Linked DNA regions of Homo sapiens: region 2 is linked to region 1. A link means that fine-mapping ties the variant in region 1 to the expression of a gene that starts in the linked region. Tissue or cell type: esophagus mucosa. Region 1 holds a variant in brackets; the other region holds the start of a gene. All regions are shown on one strand. Distances are from middle to middle.

Evidence for each region. PIP is the estimated chance that this variant, and not a neighbour inherited with it, causes the effect.
Region 2: it holds the start of PGCKA1, and the variant in region 1 is fine-mapped to the expression of PGCKA1 in esophagus mucosa (GTEx, PIP above 0.99).

What each region holds. Positions count from the first base shown.
Region 1 is chr4:37,580,150-37,588,254 of GRCh38, reverse strand. The region is part of intron 2 of PGCKA1 (PDCD10 and GCKIII kinases associated 1); the gene reads right to left. It also overlaps a transcript of RELL1 not described here. Among named protein-coding and RNA genes, the nearest start is that of RELL1, 100 kb to the left of the region's middle. The variant G/T (reference allele first, on the strand shown) is at 4,207.
Region 2 is chr4:37,450,345-37,458,449 of GRCh38, reverse strand. PGCKA1 (PDCD10 and GCKIII kinases associated 1) reads right to left here and starts at 4,525. Exons shown (of 4, transcript NM_001104629.2): 1 at 4,410-4,525. It overlaps LOC124900691 (a long non-coding RNA gene), which reads left to right. Exons shown (of 3, transcript XR_007058098.1): 1 at 1-1,814; 2 at 2,860-2,970; 3 at 3,356-4,133.

The DNA.
Region 1 (8,105 bases):
CAGCTATGATTTGTGGACCTGTTCTTTTGCAGCTCAAAGACATGCCCCCTTGGGCTTCCTGGCAGAAGGTGGACTCATTTCCCACTTGCCCACTGTTCCCTGACCCCTCCCCAAGCTGGGCTTTTCCCCATCATTTCCTTTGGAACAAAATCTTCTCTTCATATAAAACTGACCATGTTGGCCTCTTCCTTCCTCAGAACATCCTAAAAATGAGTATGGAAGCATCTCTTAGATATTATTCATTTCTAATATCTACAGCCTTTATTTTTATTTATTATTTTTTTTTGAGACACAGTCTCACTCTGTCGCCCAGGCTGGAGTGCAGTGGCGCAATCTCGGCTCACTGCAACCTCTGCCTCCCAGGTTCAAGCGATTCTCCTGCCTCAGCCTCCCAAGTAGCTGGGTTTACAGGCGGGTGCCACCATGCCTGGCTAATCTTTGTATTTTTAGTAGAGACAGGGTTTTGCCACGTTGGCCATGCTGGTCTCAAACTCCTGACCTCAAGTGATCTGCCTGCCTTGGCCTCTCAAAGGTCTGGGATTACAGGCATGAGCCACTGTGACGGGCCTACAGCCTTTAAAAAGACAAGCCAAAACAGAATCTGCATCCCCAGTCTCCCTGTCTCCATGAAGCACATGCACCAGAAAGAGACATCATTCATTGCTGGCTGTGTCTCTGTCTCCCATGTTGTCCCTCCTTCCTTCTTTCAATCATAGGTGAATTTCCAGGGATGCTGCTTCATAAGCTTTTGTCCACAGTGAATATGACTGGTGCTTTTTAAGAAGTACAGATTGGTTGCTTAGTTAAAAGGGACTAGATTTACATTAAAAAAATAAAATCCACAAATAACTCCCTATGGTAGGCTGAAAAATGGCCCCCAAAGATATCCACATCCTAATCCCTGGAACCTATAAATAATACCTTATATGCCACCCCAGCCCCCAAATTAAAGGTATTTGCAGATGTGATTAAGTGTAGGATTTTCAGATGGTACAATTTGCCTAGTTTATCTGGGTGGACTCTAAATACAATTAAATAAATGCTTATGAGAAGGAGGTGGAGGGACATTTGATTATAGACAGAAGAGGAAGAGGCAATGTGACCAAAAAGGCAGAGATTGGAGCAAGGAGGTCACAAACCAAGAGTACTGGCAGCCCCCCAAGCTGGAAGAGGGAAGGAACAGATTCACCCCTGGAGCCTCTGGAAAGAGTGTGGCCCCGGTGACACCTTGATCCCTGATACCCACCCCTGGATCAAGCCCACTGATACCAATTTCAGACTTCTGGTCTCTAGAACTGGGAGAGAATAAACTTCCATTGTTTTGTTTTGTTTTGTTTGTTTTTTTGAGACAGAGCCTCACTCTGTTGCCCAGGCTGGAGTGCAATGGCACAATCTCGGCTCGCTGCAACCTCTGCCTCCCTGGTTCAAGTGATTCTCCTGCCTCAGCCTCCCCAGTAGCTGGGATTACAGGTGCCTGCCAACACGCCCAGCTAACTTTTATATTTTTAGTAGAGATGAGGTTTCACCATGCTGGCCAGGCTGGTCTTGAACTCCTGACCTCAGGTGATCCATCCACCTTGGCCTCTGAAAGTGCTGGGATTACAGGCGTGAGCCACCATGCCCGGCTGCTTCCATTTTTTTAAACCTCTAAGTTCGTAGTAATTTGCTGCAGCAGCACAGAAAACTAGTAACATCCCCAAATCACTTCATGCTTGAGGACCAAACCCCTTGTCCTTCCAACTCTTCCTGGGAGGACTCATGGAATGTAGAAGAGTCCCTCGGACCAGCCGTGCATCTCTTGCCACCCTCTTTCCTTACCGTGCTCCACCCTTCTTCAAGTCTAATTCTCAGCACTTAGGACAGCACCTGGTACAGAGCAGGCAGTCAATAAATGTGGAATGAATGAATGATTTAATGGCTATGGATTAAAAACGAGAGCACTATCAGTGAACCTGTTGTGTGTCTGCAACCAATCAAGACATTTCCAGTTTGTGCCAGCCGTGTCGCCCAGGTGTTATGAGGGTGGGCTCAGGAGACAGAAAACCCTGCTACTGTGGGACTTTGGGCCTCAGTCACTTGGCCTGTAGATGGGGATAATAATATTCCTACTATATAGTGTTGCTGGGGGTCATATGAGCAAACATTCATAATAAACATAGACCAGGGGTGTCTTAACCACCCCATTTGGATACAGCATATTAAAACACACCCCCCAAAAAGAAAAAGATGGAGGTCTAGTATCCAAGAAAGATATAATCTAGTTGCCAGAACCTATGCATACAAACAAGAGTATTAACAATGTCAAGTAGGACTTGTTTCTGGAATAAGGGCTACATGGTATATTTCTATCAACTGTGACACCAATTGAAAGATAGAAAACCCCAAGTACAACAACAGTCCCGTAGACAGAAAAATCGCTTTTGCTATGGAACTGTGTACACATGTGTAACATTGTACCTTTCAGAATACTCTTAAACTACCCCATTTCTAAAGCCCAGGATTTTATTCCCAGCCTCTACTCCTCCTTTACTTTCCTTTTCTGCTGATAATTCATAGATGAGCTGGATAAATAGGACAGGCGAGAAGAAGCACGTGCACCTCCTCCCCTCCCTCAACACCTCTCCTCACCCCTCTCCTTCCTCAACACCTCTCCTCTCCCCTCCCCTCCCTCAACACCTCTCCTCTCCCCTCTCCTTCCTCAACACCTCTCCTCTCCCCTCCCCTCCCTCAACATTTCTCCTCTCCCCTCCCCTCCCTCAATACCTCTCCTCTACCCTCCCCTCCCTCAACACCTCTCCTCTCCCCTCCCCTCCCTCAATACCTCTCCTCTACCCTCCCCTCCCTCAACACCTCTCCTCTCCCCTCCCCTCCCTCAACACCTCTCCTCTCCCCTCCCCTCCCTCAACACCTCTCCTCTCCCCTCCTCTCCCTCAACACCTCTGATCTCCCCTCCTCTCCCTCAACACCTCTCCTCTCCCCTCCCCTCCCTCAATACCTCTCCTCTCCCCTCCCCTCCCTCAATACCTCTCCTCTCCCCTCCCCTCCCTCAATACCTCTCCTCCACCCTCCCCTCTCCTCTCCCCTCCTCTCCCCTCCCCTCCTGACCCTCCCCCTCCACAATTCGCTCTGAAATCCTGACCCTTTTCATGCCTGCAATACTTTGTTTATCCTGGACTCTTTAAAAGCAAACCAACCAACAAACAACAACAACTAGTCAGGAGGATAGGTAGTAAAAAAAAAAAAAAAAACAAGTCAAAGAAAAGGAGAAAAGAGCTTAGAACTGTTTGAGAAACAAGGAAGGCAGACTGGATTGTAATAATGTAACTGAAGCAATCATAAAACATTACTCATTGAAACATCTCAGGTCAACTTTATGATGGTGAATTCAAGAGGTGTACAGGGGAAGGCGAAAGAAAGGAGGAAAGAAAAGAGGGAGGAAAGGCGAAGGAGGGCAAGAAGGCGAGGAAAAGCAGGCAGGCACATCCAGAGTGACACCTTGCACTCCCAGCTCCTCGGAGGCTGACCAAGATTGACCCTGGGGCACCCTCCATCCCCGCCTTCTGCTGCTATAGCCAAGACCACAGGAGCAGCCTGCACCGAATGAAGTGAGTGCTGAGATTTAACAGCCGTACTCGAAAACTGCCCCTTCCCTGCTTCTGAAGGAAATATACATCATTTGCGGCTTTTAGGCTCCCCTCCTTCCCCAGGAAAACCACAGGATCTATACTGTTCTTCCAAGCTGCACAATTACAAAGGATGTTGTGGTGGTTTTCCTCTTTCAGAATCAGGTTTCCAGTTTGGGTCCTCCCCGGCTTGCCTCCCATTAGGGCACACCACATGGGTTTCCTATAGACCTGGTCCCATACCTGAGGGTCATGCTTCCGCGCCTCTCCGGAGCTTGGCGGGGACAGCCTCTTCCTGGTTAGAGGTTCTGTCCTCTCTCACCTCGCCCTGAGTTTTCCTTCCCCAGCAACATTCCTTCTCTAGATCAGACGGACAGGCTCTAATGTCCAAGGTTGTGTGACTGCTGACGAAAAGGGTGGGGACTAATGTACTCACACCCAACCCCTGCATGCCTGTGTCTACAATTATTCTTCCTTATATGATGTGTCATATCAAATTTAATTCATTTCTTTTTTCATATGTCACTCCCACTTCTACATCTTGCATTTAGCAAGGACTTCTCCTAAGCCCAGGGGCAACAAG[G/T]AAATGCTCCGGGTCTAGCATGTGACACACAGCAATGAAAAAAATATGCTCTTTTGACGTAAGATTGGGTTCAAAATGAGCAGTCTATCAGCTGTCTTCCTTGCCTCCCTTTTGGCAACAGCTAGCTTAAAGGTAAGAATTCAGTTGTTGGGTACCCTTTATTACTGAGCAAAATCAAAATTTGCTTCCTCTTTGGAGCATAAAAAAGCAACAGGCAACAAAGGGAAAATCCTTCACAACCACTTCTTAGTTTACACAGGGGAAAAACAAACACCATTAGGATGGCTGTGTCCACCCAATGCTGCTGCCGCCTGCTTCTGCAGCCCTGTGTTGGGGGCTGACTCTGTTTTGTGTTTAAACAAGGCCAGGCTATCACGAGGTCAGGAGATCGAGACCATCCTGGCTAATACGGTGAAACCCCGTCTCCACTAAAAATAAAAAAAAATTAGCTGGGCGTGGTGGTGGGCGCCTGTAGTCCCAGCTACTCGGGAGGCTGAGGCAGGAGAATGGCGTGAACCTGGGAGGCGGAGCTTGCAGTGAGCCGAGATCGCACCACTGCACTCCAGCCTGGGCGACAGAGCGAGATTCCGTCTCAAAAAAAAAAAAACAAAAACAAAAACAAACAAACAATAAAAAAAGAAGGCCATGCTAATGCCATGTCAGTCATTGGTGAAGCCTCCTTGCTGGGAGGGTAGCAATGGAGGTAGGGGAAGGGCGAAGTCCAGGGAAGCCCAGGAGTTCTCCAGCCAGGCAGAGAAATTAACTGAGTATTCATTAGGAAGTCAAGGGCATATAGGAAAAGACTCAACCCATCTGGAAGCTGCCTTTAAATAGTGATAGCTTTGAAGAATGACAGGGACATTTTAAAAGGACACAGGAATCCACTTGTAGAAGTTTTACTGGCCAAATGTGGAACAACTGGAATATTAAAATAATTACTAATCTACAGCATTTGTAGCCAATTGAATAAAACAAGGACTTATGAGTCCACACTAAGATACATAAAGGGAAAGGGAACACTCTACCTTACAAGTAGGAAACCAGCTAACAAACATACGAGAAATACTGGAACTAGAAAAATCATTTGATAGCCATCATAATAATAGAAAAACCATTTGATAGCCATCATAATAATAATTGATGTCAGTAAGAAGTATCAATGGATGGTAGGACTAGTGGGTGAAATTTTGAGGAGGACAGGATATTTAGTCTTAAAGTAGCTCCCCCCCATATGATTAAGGACAAAATATTATCCTTACGTTGGAGAAACCCGGCATACAGCGCCTTAACCAAGTAATCAAAGGTAATAGTGCCATAATGAGACTAATCAATGGCATGTGGCTCCTGATAGGATGCACTGAGAACTTAGCCTCACTTCTGTGATTTCCTGACAAAAGAGCATACTCTGAGTTGAAACAACGAGGGATAGTCTGCAAAGCAACTGGCCTGTACTCTTAAAATAATGTAATGTTATGAAAAAGCAAAGAAAGACAGAAGAATGCTTCCAAATTCAAGGAGATTTAAGAGACATGACAGCCGATGCACTGCATGTCCTTCTTGCTAAAAGGTCGTTATTGACATAATTGGTAAAATCTGAATAAGGTCTGTAGATTAGGTAATCGTATTAAATTGATGTGAATTACCTGCTTTTGAACATTGTACTGGGGTTATATAAGAGAATGCTCTTGGGGAAGGGCAGAACAAGATGGCCAGATAGAAGCCTCCACTGATGTTCACTTCATTGCCCCACAGGAACACCAAATTTAACAACTATCATCTACACCAACAAGCACCTTTATAAGAACCAAAAATCAGGTACACAATCAGTGTACCTGGTTTTAACTTCATATTGCTGAAAGAGGCACTAAAGAGGGTAGTAGGAAAGACAATCTTGAACTGCCGCTGCCCATTCCTTGGCAGTGGCTGCATGTCGTGGAGAGAGCATCTGTGTGTTTGGGGGAGGGAGAGTACAGTGATTTGGGGACTTTGCGTTTGAACTCAGTGCTGCCCTATCAGAGCAGAAAGCAAAACCAGGCTGAAATCAGCTAAGCCACGACCCCCCAGCCTACCCACACACAGAGGGAGCATTTGGACCAGATCTAGCCAGAGGGAAATTATATATTCCAGTTGTTGGAACTTGAGTTTTGGCAAGCCGCACCACCATGGACTAAAGTGCTCTGCAATCCTAATACACTTGAAGGGTAGCCTAGGCCACAAGAACTGTGGTTCCTAGGCAAGATATCAGTACTGTGCTGGGGCCAGAGCCAGTGGACCTGGGGGGGCACCTGATCTACTGAGACACCAGAGTGGCTAAGGGAGAACCTGTGTCACGTGTCCCAAAACCCAGGCAGCACAGCTCACAGCAATGAAAGTGACCCCTTCCTTGTGCTTGAGGAAAAGACAGGGAAGAGTAAAGAGGACTTTGTCTTACACCATAGGATACCAGCTCAGCCACATTAGCATAGGGCACCAGGCAGAGTCATGAGGCCCCCATTCCAGGCCCCAGCTCCTAGATGACATTTATAGACACACCCTGGGCCAGAAGGGACTGCACTTCCTTGAAAGGAAGGACCAAGTCCTGGCAAGACCCATCACCTGCTGAGTGGAGAGCCCTTGGGCCCTGAATAACCAGCAGGAATACCCAGGTAGTACGCTATGGGCCTTGGGTGAGACTCTGAGATGTGCTGGTTTCAGGTGAGACCCAGCACATTCCTAGCTGTGGTGGCTATGGGGAGAGACTACTTCTACTTGAGAAAAGCAGAGGGAAAAGTAAAGTGGACTTTGTCTTGCACTTTAGGTACCAGCTCAGCCACAGTGGGGTAGAGCACCAAGCGAGCTCTTGGAGTCCCTAATTCAAGGCCTTGGCTCTTGGATGGCATTTCTGGATTTGCACTTGACCACAGGCAAGTCCACTGCCCTGAAGGATGTGTCCTAGGCCTGGCAGAACTTACTATAAACTGTCTGAGGAGCCCTTGGGCCTTAAGTGAACATCGGCAGTAGCCTGGCAATACTCTCTGTGGGCCTGTGGTAGTAATGGTGATAGGAAGAGGATCCTTTGCCTGGGAAAAGGGGAGGGAAGAATGGAAATGGCCTTGTCTTATGGTTTGAGTGACAGCTCAGCCCCAGTAGAATAGAGCACCAGGTAGATCTCTAAGGATTTTGACTTCAGTCCCTAGCTCCCACTTAGGGCCTGGGGTATCTTGTCACCCTGAAGGGAAGGACACAAGCCTGGCTGGCTTTGCACCTGTTGATTGTAGAGCCTTAGGGCCTTGAGCAAACATTGGAGCTAGCTAGCTAGTGGTTACAGAGGGCCCTGGGTAAGATCCAGTGCTGTGTTGGCTTCAGGTCTGACCCAGCACAGTCCTAGTGATCATGGCCACAAGGGTGCTTGTGTCACCCTATCCCCAGCTTCAGGTGGCTCAGTACAGAGAGAGAAACTTTTGTTTGGGGAACAAGAGTCTGCCCGGTAATCCAGTGAACTCTTTCAGATCTTATCCAAGACCACCAAGGTGATACCTCTATGAGTCTGCAAGAACCATAGCATTACTGGGCTTGGGGTGCCTCTAATGTAGATATGGCTCAGATCACAACACACAAGTCCCTTCGAATACCTGAAAAGCCTTCCCAAGAACAGGTACAAACAAGCCCAAACTGGAAAGACTATGAGGAATACCTAATTGTTCAATGCCCAGACACCAGTGAGCATCCACAAACATGAAGACCATCCAAAAAAAAAAAAAAAATGACCTCACCGAAAGAACTAACTAAAGCTCCAGGGACCAATCCTAGAGAAACAGAGATATATGACTTTTCTGACAGAAAACTTAAAATAGCTGTATTGAGGAAACTCAAAGAAATTCAAGATACCACAGAGAAGGAATTCAAAATTCTATCAGATA
Region 2 (8,105 bases), 130 kb after region 1:
CTTATCTACAGAAGCACAAGCTCAATAAATGGTGGTTATTTTAAGCCATTACGTGTGGGGTGATTTGTTACACAGCAATAGATAACTGATACTGAATATATAAGTAATTTCTCAATAAACAGTGGCTATGTTTTGGACAATATTATACTTAATATAGAATGAGTTTTTCATAGTACTAACATTTGTGCTTTTTAGTCAGAAGTAGGAACATGACTAAACCAGGAATTGGGACTCTGAGATTCCAGTCCCAGCAGTTTTTCCAATGGGCAGCTGTATGACTTTGGACAAATCAATTAACCTCTTTGAGACTCAGTTTCCTCACCTGTAAATTAAGGTGGTTAGACCAAGTAACTTTTAAGGTTCTTTTCCAGCTCTAAAAAGGATCAAGGGTCCTTTTTACCAAAAGGCAGTACTTCTTCCTTTCTAACAGATAGTTTTGAACACAATTTAATGTTTTTCTTGTAGACTTAGGGTTTAATCACAGACCACCTTCACTGTATTGTCTTTGCTGCCTAGCATTTGGCTGTAACCACATTTCATACTTATCACAAGAGCTGTACATTGAAACTATAAAGTAGATCTTGCTGTGGACCAGGAACCCAGGTAGCCAAGCTCATTAGGAATCAGAAATGAAATAATGCCAAATAAGTTCTAGTGGGAATCTTAAGTATGTGACTCTTAACAACAATTTGAAGGTGCAGGTGGACTTCTTTTATGCATTTCTAGGTTACAATACATATTCTGGAGGACTAAGGTTGTTGACAATCTGACCAAATAAAAGCAGTACTATTTCACAGCTATACAGAATCAAATCTTTGTATTTATTGCACGTTAATAACCAAGATATATGATACTCAGTTATCAAATGAGGGAAAACAACACCAAAATCAAATTTCAAAACTCCTGTGTGTAGACATCTACTCCACAACTAGTGATCAAGTGAATAAATTTAAAATACATCCAAATACACATTGTATTAAAAAGCTATGCATGCGGCAATGAGTCAATAACCAAGGTGACTTTTGTTTGTTCACAGGCATTATGTATAGCCTCTCACACGTCACTAATACTCTTACAAATATAATACAGTCCTCTCTGTGACATACAGCAGGCCATGTTGTGGTCAACTGAAAACAATAAAAAAGAAAGGCTGTTCTACTGTCCATTTCCACTAGTGTTAAACAATCAAATGTCAGGGTGTTTTTACTCCCAGAAGGAGTTAAGCTAAATCAGAGAATGTGTATATAATATGAGGGCAACAGTTTACTTCAGCTTTGCCTTCAGATGTAGATATTTAAGTCTGTAGAAAGAAGCACTAGGTTGTTGAAAATGTGAAATATAATTGGCTATTTATCAGAAACCTTTTTCTGTGATTAAAAACCATGAGGAGCTCTAGAGGAACTAGAATCCACATGAACATTGCAATGAAATGTGGCTTACATTTATCTACCTAGAGAAAATGTATTTTGAAATGACATGTAAATTGACGTCAGAGATTCAAGTCAATTAATGGGTTCTTACAGTTAAAATCTTAAATACCAGTGCTTCTTTAACTATCTTTCGAATCAGTTCACTTCTCTCTCTCCTCTAATTTAAATTTTTGCCGCAGCTGCCTTTGGTCTTGGTTGTATCTTTCCTGTTTCATTCTCATTGCAGCCTGCATGAACTCTCTAAAATAGAGATCTGCTGTGCTTAAGATCCTTCAATGGTTTCTCCCAAGATATTGGGATCTCTGAAGACAAGGACTGTGTCCCCAGAAACTCATCGACTCTCTGGTGTCTCTGGGTCTACGCACATGATGTCTCCAAGGCCAGGTCAGGGTTTTATTAAATTTTGTAGAACCACTTGTACACTGAACAGAACAGAGTTCAGCACTTCTGATAAAGTTTGAGTGAGATACAATATTCCTTTTGTCATTTGTTAATATTCATTGCAGCTCTGGAACATCTTTTCTACAATGCCTGACAACACTGAGTCAGAGTTTTAATTTTCTGTTTCAGGACACGTATTCATTGGCTTGGTGTTTTACGTATGTTTTAGGAAAGGATTATTTGATAATCTACAGTCCTGAAGATTTTAACTAACCTCTGTGGGACTATGATATTCTCGGGTGAAAAGGGTACAAGTAGATGAGCGATTTCATTTTCAGTTTATTCTCTTAAATAGCAGTCAGAGTAAGAAAGGCTACAACTGGAGACACAGGATGGCTCAATGGTTAAGAGCAGGCACTCGAGAAAGACTACATCTGACCTGCACATAGGTGAAGACTCCAAGTCGGCTTCCCCTAGGATGACCCCTTTAACTCAACTCTTTTCTACACACCTACAAAGTCTCTCTGTAAGCATGTAATCTAATGACCAAAAAGAATGACCAAAAAGAAAATCTGCCTAATGACCAAGAAAGAAAAGCAGGACATAGGTACTAGTTACTATTTAACCAAGACTGTAAAAGATCCCAAGATTCAGGGTTACCAGAAAAATTGTGTAACTAGGGGAATGTGAAACACAGTCTAGGGAGAGGAAACCTAGCTACTGGAAGGCTGGTATTCAATTATTTGGAAACTGGCGTCTATTCCAAGAAGCACCGTGAATGGGCTTCCGGGCACCAAGAGCGGGCTGTTCTAGGAGGAAAGGGGCCGGCCCTACCTGTGCTCTGCCCTTGGGCTGCAAATGGATTCTGGCCGGAGCTTAGCCAGGTTGTATTTCCGGCTCAGAGAGGGTCTGGGTGGGACGTCAAGGGAATCATTCCATGTTTAGGATAATGGAACGTGTTGAGTTGGTATGCAAGGTTTTGTCTTCAATCCCAGATATCCAAAAAGCTCTTTGAAACACAGGAAAGATTGGCCCTATTTCTCTTTAGGTATCATTATTTATCTAAATCTCCGGAGCCATTGAGGACCAAGATCATACTTGCTGAATAAATGCACGGAGCAGGATCAGAGGATAGACACAGAATGGGCCAAGAAGAGAAGTAAGCCACACCTTCCCTTCCTGTCTCAGCATCTGTTCCATTTCTGCTCAGTGACCCAGGCAGCTTGCTGTTAGCTGACTCTTCACACTTTAGGGAAATACAAATAACTCCAGAACTTAACTTTACCTTTGAGCTTCAAATTGTTTCAATTATGTACCTTGTTTCAATTATCTGCCTCCTGACAGTGTTTCACAGCTGGGACCAGTAAGGTGGTCTATGATCTTTAACATCTGTCTTATCCTTCCTAAAATAGTATCAACTGAAGGATTAAATGGGGAAGGGGGAGGGGTAGGCAACAAATATAGACTCTATTATGTTTAAAAGCAGTAACCGCTTTCCATTTCTTTCTCATTCAACTCTCAAATGCTTCTCTTCTTTTCTCCAGATATTATTCCTCATAAGAGCTTGCTTGATTGCAACCACCAAGGACATCCACAAACCAGGGCAAGAAGGACCATCCGTAATTCTTTCCCATAAATAGTGACAGGAAGAAAATAAACGCCCTATTCTTCAATGATTTGAACCACCTCTGGAGCACAAACTTTCTCTAAATTCACAGGGCAAATATCCATCATGGGGCAGGTATCTATGCTGCCATGGAAAGTAACATAAAATGTACTAAGTCATCACAGGGAGTTTTAATTTTGTTTTTAAGGTCAATTGCCATGCTGGGGTAAAAAGCATTGATCCTTGCCTTTTATCACCGGAAAAATTCTTCACCAGTACTTTGTGAAAATCTCGCCTCATCAGGGCTGCCAAGGTCAATGCAACCTAAGTAACCAAGCTGGGAGATGCTTGCCTAATTATTAAATATTTAGCAAACAGTTTGTGACTATTTAACTGTTTGCACCTGGCACCCTCTTTTCACTACGTGAGGCCTCCTGGCACCCTGACCTCTTCCCCCACCCCTACCCACTGCCCAGGCCGCCAGCACCCCTGGGGGGCAAATACCGGGACCCAAGGGCATTTCAAAGAAACAGCAGAGGTCACATTCCATTTCCTTTTTATTAAAAAACATACTTAAAATGGGGGAGGAGGGCACAGATCTAAGGTAAAATCTCTTGCAGTTTTTTCAAGTTCGCATGCACCGTTGAAAGTTCATTAGTTAGGGATTTAAAAGCAAAAATGTTTCACACAACCAATTAAACGCCAAGCTTTACAAACGCCTTGGTCTTTGGTTTTGGGAATCTGTAAAAGTCCGCCTCCCCCCACCCGAGTTTTGCCCCTTTTAGAGCCCCTTTGTTGAATTACGTGACTTTTCCCGAAGTCATCAAACTTTGAATTGCGTCTCTAATTTTTTTTTTCAGGGCAAAAGCAAATCAAGAAATTAAACTTAAAAGTAGGCGACTCGGAGAGAAGTGGGGGAAAGCTCGCCCCAAAGCCAAGTTCCGCAGGACTAAAGCCCTCTTTGCGCGCGCGGGGCGGGGGATTGTCCCTACCTGGGGCCAGACGGCGGCGGCGGCGGCGGCGGCGGGGTCCCGGCGCCCATGGCTTCGCCGGCCTCGGGCAGCCGCGCCGGGAGACGCTAGCGGCTCCGCGCTGCCCTGAGCCCGCCGAGCTCGCAGCGGCCGCCCCAGCGCTGTCATTGGGCCCGCGCGTCACGTGGCCCGGGCTGCGGGTGAGCCTTCCCGACACGCGTAACCCTTTACCTGCACGCCCCGAGGATGCGGCGGGGCTAGGGCTCGAAACCCTGGAGTACGATGTCCGACATCCCCGGGGCCGGGGTGGCAGTCCCGGGCGCACTGAAGCAGAAAATCCACGCGCTTGTTGGCCTCTGAGCACAAACGACCGCGCCAACCGCCTGCCATCACGGGAAACTCCGGGGTGCTTACTCCAATGTTGCGCTGGAGAGAAGGGAGCTTCCTATGATCAAGGGACTGGAGTACGGGGATACACAAAACAAATGCACCCGCTGGCAAATAGTTGTGTACTCCCAAACCCCGAGAACTTGGCATTTTTCAGTTTCCTCCTTATTTCTGGCATTCGCCGCCTAGACCTGCTGTGAGTTCCATGGCCAGCCCTGTATGAGCTACATGGACCTAGAAACAGCGGGGGCGCCACCACCACGATAAAAACCAGGGAAGTTGCACACACTCGCCTGCACCCTAAAGGCCCCAGGGGGAGTTCAATGAACTCCTGGTTCCCCGTCCCCTCCTCACCCACTCCCCCTCCATCCCTTTCTTTTCCTGAGGTCTTAGGGCATTGGCCACAAGACTGCATCCAATCTACTGAGTTCCACATTCGTAGCTGTTACAATCCATATACCTAAGGCGGGTGGAGAACTGACTCTGCTTAAGGACTGGACATTCTTTTCACCTGTGCTCCAAAGCAAATGCTGAGCTTGCCAAAAAAAGTGTTAAGCAACTGCGCCACCTAGCTTACCCTCTTCTCTCTTCTTTTCAACTCATCCAGCAAGAGAATAAAATAGGATATTGGAGAGGCATCTGGACAGAGTATTATCTAAGGATGGACATAGTGTCCTTGGGTTTTCAATGTATCTACTTTAATGATGCCAGCCCCATTCACATGATATTTGCCAGGCTTTTGAGAATTTGAACACTCCATTTTTTGAATCCTTCTAATTTTGCAGTGCTGGGATTGCACGCTGTAAAGTGTTAGATTTTTGCAGGAAGTTATATGTGGTTTTACATCCTTTGTCACAATGAACGGCACTCATGTCCAACTTATAGTCGACACTTAATTGTCTACAGGATATTGATACATTTATCAAGTAGGTTATCTGTCGAAAAAGGGGTTGGTATTTGTATTGGGTTTCATTTTATTTATTTATTTATTATTATTTGAGACAGGGTCTGGCTGTTGCACACAGGCTGGAGTGTGATGCGATCTCAGCTTACTGCAACCTCCTCCTCTGGGGATCAAGGGATCCTCCCACCTCAGCCTCTGGAGTGCCTGGGGCTACAGGCTCATGCTACCATGCTCGGCTAATTTTTGTATTATTATTATTATTATTACTATTATTATTATTATTTTTGTGGAGACTAGGGTGGGGGTGGGCTCTCCTAAACTTGCCCAGGCTGGTCTTGAACTCCTGAGGTTAAGCAATCCGCTCGCCTCGGCCTCCCAAAGTGCTGGGATTGCAAGCTGAGCCACCGCGCGCCCCAGCCTGCCTTAGATTTTAAAGTGCAGTTCCTAGACTAATAGCATCGGCATAATCTGAGAGAATGTAGTAAAAATGCAAATTCTTGGGACCCACCCCAGACGTATTGATTCAGAAATAGTTGGGGAGGGAGGGTGAAGAAATCTGTGTTTTAGCAAGTGGTACCTACTCCAGTTTGCGAACCGTTGCTCTGAATATGCACAGGTAGCTGGCGAAGTTCCCCTCATCTATTAAATAGTAAGGGCTGGCATTCTATAAAGCTAGAGGTGCTGCTTTTATTTGTATCCCTAGATTACCAGTTTTATGTAATCTGTCATGTTGATACACTGAAACTGAACCCTCCATGTGTCCATACAACGTGTAATCTGTACTTCTTGCAGATCTCTTGGAATGCCAAATTGAGATCTGAGGGGCCCTTGTAAAACATATGGAAGAAAAACCTATGGTTTCTTGATGCACACCAGGGTGAAAACACCATGATTCACTTCATTTTTTAGGTGTGCCCATGTTTTCACTGACATGTAAATTGTTCCCAGCCAATGAGTCATGAAAGATAGGAAAGCTAATTTTTTTGAGTGGATTTATCAACATGGTTCCAAATTTGTGAAAGAGTTCTAAAAAACAAACAACATTAAAAACATTATGGTATCCGTTTATGTTATAGCCCAAAAAACTCCCCACACCATATTAGGCATTGCAGTAAGGGCTCCTTGCAATCCATTGCAATCTCCTTACTGAGAAAGAAAGAACTGAGTGGGTTTTTATTTGAGTTTTCTCCATGGGATAGATAGACTATTTCTAATGGGCTAGATGGATGTCTTACTTTTAAACTCTCTAGGTCCAAGTTTGTTTTGTGATTTTCCCCCACTTTCATCCCCTGTTCACTTTACATTTGTAATTCTATCTACTCAATTCCAATTGGAACTGGAATTATTTGAGTTTTCCCTCCCCTTCATCAAACACCTCTATCCATTAAGCCCTGAAATAAATCTTGAATTGCCCCTACTCTAAGCAGGTTCTAAGATCAGGTTCTAACACTTTCTAACTGAGATCATGGCCATGGTCTTTACTGGTCTCCCAGCTTCTGATCTTTTCCATCTGAAAGCCATCTGACAAAGTAACTGCCCTTCCCCAAAACTTTTTTTCCCAGCTCCCTGTTGAAACCAGCGCAATTTTCCAACAAGCCAAATGCCCATAGCACTGAAGCTTGAGAAACTTACACCTGCTGCCTGTTGACCAATTCCTCTTCCTTAACCCTCCCTAATTCCTGTTTTCCTATAGGAGGTTACAGTGAGATGCTAGACACCTGCTGCCTATTGAGCAACTCCTCTTCCTTGCCCTGCCTGTTTTCTCCCCCCATATAAACCCCAACTTTAGCCAGGGGAGATTCAGATTTGAGTCTTGTCTCCTGTCTCTGGCTGATATCACCCATAATAAAGCCTTCTTCCCTGACAATACTCATTGCCTTAGTGATTGGCTTTCTGTGTAGTGAGCAACAGGACCTAGGCTGGGCCCCTGGCTTTCAGTGACACTATTGACTACTGAATAAAGTCTAAAATCCCAACAGCATTTGAAGTCGCCTGAAATATGCTTCAATGCCCATTTTTGCTCATGCAGCTTCCTTTACCTGAAATGTCTCTCTGACATTGACAGCTAAGTCCTAATTATTCTTCTAGCCTCAGCTCTATCTCCTCTGGGTCAACCTTTTCGATATTCAGGTAGTGTTAATTGCTCCTCTGTAGTGTATCCTCAGCACCTGGCTCTCACTCTTACTAACTTTGAAATCAGTCTCATCTGGTTTAGCTGTGTCTCTTCTAGACTGTAGGGTTCTGGATGGCAGGAGTCATGCGTGACTTTTCAAATCATTCCAGGATCTAGCATAATGCCTTGGGCATAGCAAGCATACAGTGTTGACTGTTGTGTTCTTGGCTCTAGGAAAGAAGATATTTAAACAAACTCTATTTATTTGAAATGCTTTTTTGCAAATATTTATTAACTTCTCTACATTTTCTTT